Linked DNA regions of Homo sapiens. The protein of the gene in region 1 purifies or fractionates together with the protein of each later gene. This does not show direct contact. Each region holds a gene or a part of one and is shown on either strand. Other genes may lie near its edges.

The links. Proteins that work in one complex are often made in the same cells at the same time.
Region 2: the proteins of TTF1 (region 1) and RNF10 purify together in Homo sapiens (co-immunoprecipitation; one large-scale study listed by IntAct). This does not show direct contact.

What each region holds. Positions count from the first base shown.
Region 1 is NC_000009.12:132,389,841-132,393,340, reverse strand, and holds part of TTF1 (transcription termination factor 1), read left to right. Parts: intron 1-1,134; coding exon 1,135-1,265; intron 1,266-2,509; coding exon 2,510-2,744; intron 2,745-3,500. UniProt on the Homo sapiens protein: Multifunctional nucleolar protein that terminates ribosomal gene transcription, mediates replication fork arrest and regulates RNA polymerase I transcription on chromatin.
Region 2 is NC_000012.12:120,551,356-120,554,855, forward strand, and holds part of RNF10 (E3 ubiquitin-protein ligase RNF10), read left to right. Parts: intron 1-1,143; coding exon 1,144-1,343; intron 1,344-3,362; coding exon 3,363-3,453; intron 3,454-3,500. UniProt on the Homo sapiens protein: E3 ubiquitin-protein ligase that catalyzes monoubiquitination of 40S ribosomal proteins RPS2/us5 and RPS3/us3 in response to ribosome stalling.

The sequences.
Region 1 (3,500 bases):
GAGCATTAGGGCCATCATGAACATGTTACAGTGCTGCAGAGATTCTGTTTATGGCCAGTTTGCGGGGGGGGCTTGCTCCCAACATGTATTTTTATGTAGGATGAATGCACTTTACATTTCTCAAGTAGTTACATATTTACAGTAAAGCCATTTGTTGCATGTTTATGCAGTTTATACAGTAAAGCCATCTTTTGTCTGTCAAGCATTATGGATAACATAGTATACGAAACCGACAAGATCTCTGCCCTCATGGAACTTCCCTTCTAGAGCTGTGTCTTCCAGTATGGTGACCAGCAGCCTCCTGGGCCTGTGGAACATTTGAAATGTAGTTAGTCCACATTGAGATGTGCTGTCAGAGTAAAACACATGCTGGGTTTTGAAGGCTCAAGATGAAGAACCGAATGTAAAATACATCGTTGATATTTTTTGATACTGATGACGTGTTGAAATGATAGGCATTTTTAATGTATTGAGTTCAATGAAATATATTATTTTTTGTTTTTGTTTTTCATCACGCAACATGTCCATGTAAGAAATATATTCTTAAAGTTCCTTTGATTAAAACTAGGTAAAGTGAGTTTTCCTATGACTACTAGGAAACTTAAACTCCGTAAGAGGCTCGTATTATGTTTCTGTTGGGCAGTGCTGGTCTGGAGGAAGAGGCATGAACAAGGGAGCCAGTGCACGTGTGAGTGCAGGTTGTGACCAGTGCTATGGAAGAGAAGCACGGTGTTCTCCAGGAGCAATCAACGGGGACTTCAGGCTAAGGGGGTCAGGGAGGCGCTCCCCGAAAACGCACCCTTTAAACGGCACTGGCGAGCATGCAGGCACTGTCCAGGTCGGGTGGAGGAAGGCCGTTTCCACCACAGGGACAGAGGCTCTGAGCTGAAGAAGGGCTAAGTGATTGCTCCGGCTGCTGTTCAGTTGAGCCAGGCCTCTGGTCTCCACTTCAGTGATTGATTGATAGGATGACCACCAGTGAGACGCCAACAGGAAGTGAAGAGGGCTGTGACCGGGTTCCCTGACAGCCTGCCCCATTCAGCTTTCCCCACGATTGCTGCGTACTGGGATGAGAATACCATTTTTAATCTGATAGTTCGTTTAAACTTGTAAAACATTTTCCCTTTCTCCTAGGTATAGCGAAGGAGATACTGAGAAGTTAAAGATGTACCATTCTCTCCTTGGGAATGACTGGAAGACGATTGGTGAGATGGTGGCCCGAAGTAGCCTCTCCGTGGCCCTCAAGTTCTCACAGATCAGCAGTCGTAAGTGGCAGCCCCCAGTGCCCACCTCGCTGAAGAAATAAGCCCTGACAGGCCTGGTTCAGCCATAACCGATCCAATGCCCGGAAATCACCGTAGACCTGTCTTCCGCAAGAGCTTTGTTTCTTAAGCTGTTCTCTATACTAATTTGTTTGGTTTCCTCGTGTGTTTAGTGAAGCCATGTGACCTTTACCCACTAGGCTGGTTTTTACCACACTTCAGTAACTGTCCGTGCAAATATAACTGCCAAGTGGACCAGGACCCCAATAAACTGGTGGTGGGAGAGCCTGGGCGGAGGGTCACTTCCCCGCAGTGGCACGGGACACGTTGGGAGGGAGGCAGGCACGCAGTTCGTGCCCGTCAGGCGGGGACTTTTCTCAGAACCAGTGTTGGTGACCTCCTGTCTGTGTCTCCTCTTTCCTAAAAGGTTTCCTTTCAGAAGACAGTCCTGACCGGGTTTTCTGTTTAGCACAGGGGCTCACACACTCCGGCCACACAGCTAGTGCCTTGCAGCCAGTTCTTCAAGTTTCCAAGAACTAGAGGAAAATCTTAAATTGTTTTTTTTTTTAATTTTGTGAACTCTAGCTATCTTTTTTTCTTTTTTGGAAATCTCTTGATTTTTAAATATTCATCCAAATTGTTATTGAGGGGAAAATGTAACATTCTGTGGCCAGACCAAAAGCACAGCCAAACAGCTGCCAGTGTGACGCTCCTTACTTAGCGTGACCGTGAATGTCTCTAGTGAAGAAGGGTGAACCGTTGATACTTTGGGGCATCCGCCACAGATAACTGGCTTCAGAAATTCTCAGGTGCCTTCATCAAGTACTGTGTTGGTATCAGTGTAGCTATTTATATTGTTACACTATGAACTCTTGGCCAAGAGACATGTACATAACATAAAAGCCATTTGGCTGGCTTTTCTTCCCCCATTAAATGTTTGGGAACCTCACAGTTTGATGCGGGAGACGTTCTCAGAAACAGGATGAACAACTGTTTTGAAATAAATAAATAAAACATTGCTTTAAGAAAGGACTTATTGAATAATTTCAGGCTTTAGTTCTTAAAAAGAATCCATGACCGTGTTAGTAATTTCATTTTAATATGCACATAATTGTGTTTGTTTTATGTCTATATAATTGAGATGCACATTATTTTCTGAAAAGTACCCGATTTATCATTTCATTTTTAATATTGTGTTTGAAAGCAAATAGACTAGCTACTATAAGACCATCTTTTTATATCTACAGAAAGAAATCGTGGTGCTTGGAGTAAGTCTGAAACCCGGAAACTAATCAAGGCTGTCGAAGAAGTGATTCTGAAGAAGATGTCTCCCCAGGAGTTAAAAGAGGTGGATTCCAAACTCCAAGAAAATCCTGAAAGTTGCCTATCAATTGTTCGGGAAAAACTCTACAAGGGCATATCTTGGGTAGAAGTAGAAGCTAAAGTGCAAACCAGAAATTGGATGCAGTGTAAAAGTAAGTGGTAAGTTCTTCCCTCTCTCTTTCTCTGTCTCTCCAGCTTCTGTGGAGAGGTGAGGTTACCAAGAATATCTGTGTAACTGCCGTGGGGAAGCTGACGTGTCAAGAACAATCGTGTCTAGTCTGCTGCCCCAGCTGCTTCCATATCACTCTCTGATTTAAATGAGCACGTAACTAGCCCTGATGCATTGAAGAGTGTATGCTTTTCTCCTAAAGAACTTGAACCTTTTTAAAACTGAATATTGACTTCTGATTTCTTCACTCTTTCTAAGTCTTTAATAAAACAAGGTAGCAATCTGTTGGCAGCATTAGAAAAAAAGGGGCCACGCGCAGTGGCTCATGCGTGTAATCCCAACACTTTGGGAGGCTGAGGCAGGCAGATCACTTGAGGGCAGGAGTTCAAGACCAGCCTGGCCAATGTGGCAAAACCCTGTCTCTACCAAAAATACAAAAATTAGCCAAGTGTGGTGGCTCACAGCCACCAGTAGTCCCAGCTACTCAGGAGGCTGAGGCAGGAGAATCGCTTGAACCCAGGAAGTGGAGGTTGCAGTGAGCTGAGATCGCCCCATTGCACTCCAGCCTGGGCAACAGAGCGAGGCTCTGTCTCAAAAAAATAAAAAATATATAGAGAGAAAAAAGATAGAAAACTAACATACAGAGAGAAATCACAAGTGTAGTGATCAGTAGCAGCTCCACCCTTCTAATGTGCTTTCTGCTTCTGCGGTTCCTCAGATGAAGCGAGGTAGGCATGCTCCTGGCT
Region 2 (3,500 bases), on another chromosome or scaffold:
GTGATCTTGGCTCACTGCAACCTCTGCCTCTCGGGTTCAAGCGATTCTCCTGCCTCAGCCTCCCGAGTAGCTGGTATTTCAGGCACCTGCCACTGCACCCGGCTAGTTTTTTTTTTTATTTTCAGTAGAGATGGGGTTTCACCATATTGCCCAGGCTGGTCTTGAACTCCTGACCTCAGGTGATCCGCCTACCTCAGCCTCCCAAAGAGCTGGGATTACAGGCATGAGCTACTATTCCTGGTCACCCATCCTGATTTTATTTTTAAATTTTAGATTTTATTTTTTAGACACAGAATCTCACCCTGTTGCCCAGGCTGGAGTGCAGTGGCTATTTGCAGGTGTATCATAGTGCACTGCAACCTTGAATTCCTGGGCTCAAGTGCCCCTCTTCAGCCTCCTGAGTGGCTGAGAGTGCAGGTGTGCATTACCGTTGCCTAGCTTTGTATTTATTTTTAAAGACTGTATTACTCCATTCTCTCATTGCTATTAAGAACTACCTGAGACTGGGTAATTTATGAAAAAGAGTGGCTTAATTGACTCACAGTTCTGCAGGCTGTACAGGAAACATGGCTGGGGAGCCCTCAGGGAACTTACAGCGGGAGAACGGGAAGCAGGCACATCTTAGGAGGAAGACTGCATAAGAGGAAATGCTACATACTTTTTTTTTTTTTTGAGCTGAGGTCGCGCCACTGCACTCCAGCCTGGGTGACAGAGTGAGACTCTGTCTCAAAAAAAAAAAAAAAAAATTCCTCTTCCTGGCCGGGCGAGGTGGCTCATGCCTGTAATCCCAGCACTTTGGGAGGCTGAGGTGAGTGGATCACCTGAGGTCAAGAGTTGGAGACCAGCATGGTCAACATGGCGAAACCCTGTCTCTACTAAAAATACAAAAATCAGCTGGGTGTGGTTTAATCCCACACGCCTGTAATCCCAGCTACTCAGGAGGCTGAGGCAGGAGAGTCACTTGAACCTGGGAGGCAGAGGTTGCAGTGAGCCAAGATCGTGCCATTGCACTCCAGCCTGGATGACAGAGTAAGACTCCGTCTCAAAAAAAAAAGCTGTGTAAAAGGAGGGTTTTTTTTGGGTTTCTGCTATAAATCAGTGTCATCCTAATCTGAAATACTGATTCATTCTCATTCTCTCTAGGTAGCAGAGGCTCAACGGGCAGAGTTTAGCCCTGCCCAGTTCTCTGGTCCTAAGAAGATCAACCTGAACCACTTGTTGAATTTCACTTTTGAACCCCGTGGCCAGACGGGTCACTTTGAAGGCAGTGGACATGGTAGCTGGGGAAAGAGGAACAAGTGGGGACATAAGCCTTTTAACAAGGAACTCTTTTTACAGGCCAAGTGAGTATTGCTACCCCTCAGAGGAAAGGGAAAGTAGGACTCTCCGGATAGCTGTGGTGCCTCTGTGAGAGGCTTTTTTTAAGCTATTGTGGGAAAGAAGCAGAAAGGGAATTGGTCTCGTTCTTTTTCTGTTCACCACTGCCCCGCCCTTCCTTTCTTTTACCCACTTTCCAGGTGGATGTTTTTGGTACTTAATATAATGCTTAAATAACTTAGTATCATGATAAGGTAGAAAACATGTTTGGAATTGGACCTAGATTTGAATCTTGTTTCGGCCTTTGACCTTAAGTAACTTAACAGCTTTGAGATTTAGCCTCTCCTTTATAAGGAAGAGGAAAGGTTTTTTTTTTTTTTTTTTTTTTTTTTTTTTTTTTTTTTTTTTTTTTTTTTTTTTTTTTTTTTTGAGATGTAGTCTCGCTCTGCCACCCAGGCTAGAGTGCGGTGGCGTGATCTCGGCTCACTGCAACCTCTGCCTCCCGGGTTTAAGTGATTTTTTTGCCTCAGCCTCCCGAATAGCTGGGACTACAGGTGCATACCACCACCCCCGTCTAATTTTTTTATTTTTATTTTTGATAGAGACGGGGTTTCACCATATTGGCCAGGCTGGTCTCAAACTCCTGACCTCGTGATCCACCTGCCTCGGCCTCCCAAAGTGCTGGGATTACAAGCATGAGCCACCATGCCCAGCCAGGAAGAGGAATTCTTTTTTTTTTTTTTTTTTTGAGACAAAGTCTTGCTCTGTCACCCAGGCTGGAGTGCAGTGGCACGATCTCAGCTCGCTGCAAGCTCCACCTCCCGGAGCTTCATGCCATTCTCCTGCCTCAGCCTCCCGAGTAGCTGGGACTACAGGCGCCCACCCCCTGGCTAATTTTGTTTTTGTATTTTTAGTAGAGATGGTGTTGCACCGTATTAGCCAGGATGGTCTTGATCTCCTGACTTCATGATCCACCCGCCTCGGCCTCCCAAAGTGCTGGGATTACAGGCGTGAGCCACGGCACCCAACCAGGAAGAGAAAATTTCTTAAGAGACAATTGAATGACAAGTTGAAGTGCTTGGCATACATTTGCTCAAATATGATCCCCTTTTGTTTCCTTTTGTGTGGCCCTAGTCATAATTGAAGATTTGACTTTGGATCTAGACTGAAGTAACCGTTTTGTACTTTATATGAACTGATGAACTGGTTTCAAATACTAATGACAGTCTTCTGTTTTTTTTTTTTTTTTGGTGACAGAGTCTCCCTCTGTCGCCCAGGCTGGAGTGTAGTGGCGTGATCTCGGCTCCCTGCAGCTTCTGCCTCTCAGGTTCAAGTGATTCTCCTGCCTTAGCCTCCTAAGTAGCTGGGACTACAGGCGCGTGTCACCATGCCCGGCTAATTTTTTTTGTATTTTTAGTAGAACGGGGTTTCACCGTGTTAGCCAGGATGGTCTTGATCTCCTGACCTCGTGATTCACCTGCCTCGGCCTCCCAAAGTGCTGGGATTACAGGTGTGAGCCACCATGCCTGGCCTAATTTTTCTATTTTTAGTAGAGATGGGGTTTCACCCTGTTGGCCAGGCTGGTCTCTAACTCCTGACCTCAAGTGATCCACCCACCTTGGCCTCCCCAAGTGCTGGGATTACAAGTGTGAGCCACTGTGCCTGGCCGAGAACAGTCTTTTCAACTGCCTTGAAGACTAGCCATTTTCTGGGGTTCTAAGGGGTGAGAGAGGAAATCTGGCTTACTGCTGTTTGATGGAGTCACGGTCTAGGTTAATTTTAGTTCAAGGGATGCCTTTGGGGAATTTGGCTGGACTTGAAGCAGAAGAAAACAGTTCATGGATTTAGACTTCTGCCTGCTGAGTCTTTGGGTTCTTTCCAGAGCTGGAGCTCAGAACTGAGGCTGAGGTCCTAGTGCAGTGCCTCATGAACCAGGGCTGCTAATGGCCTGCATTTGATTTCTAAGTGAATAGATGACAATTTCTGCTGAGGGTTTATTGGTAGATCCTGACAGTCTAGCTTTTTCCTGTCTTTCCTATTTCTAGCTGCCAATTTGTGGTGTCTGAAGACCAAGACTACACAGCTCATTTTGCTGATCCTGATACATTAGTTAACTGGGACTTTGTGGAACAAGTGGTGAGTAGCTCAGCCAAGCCCATAAGCTATGAATGGGAGCACTAAAT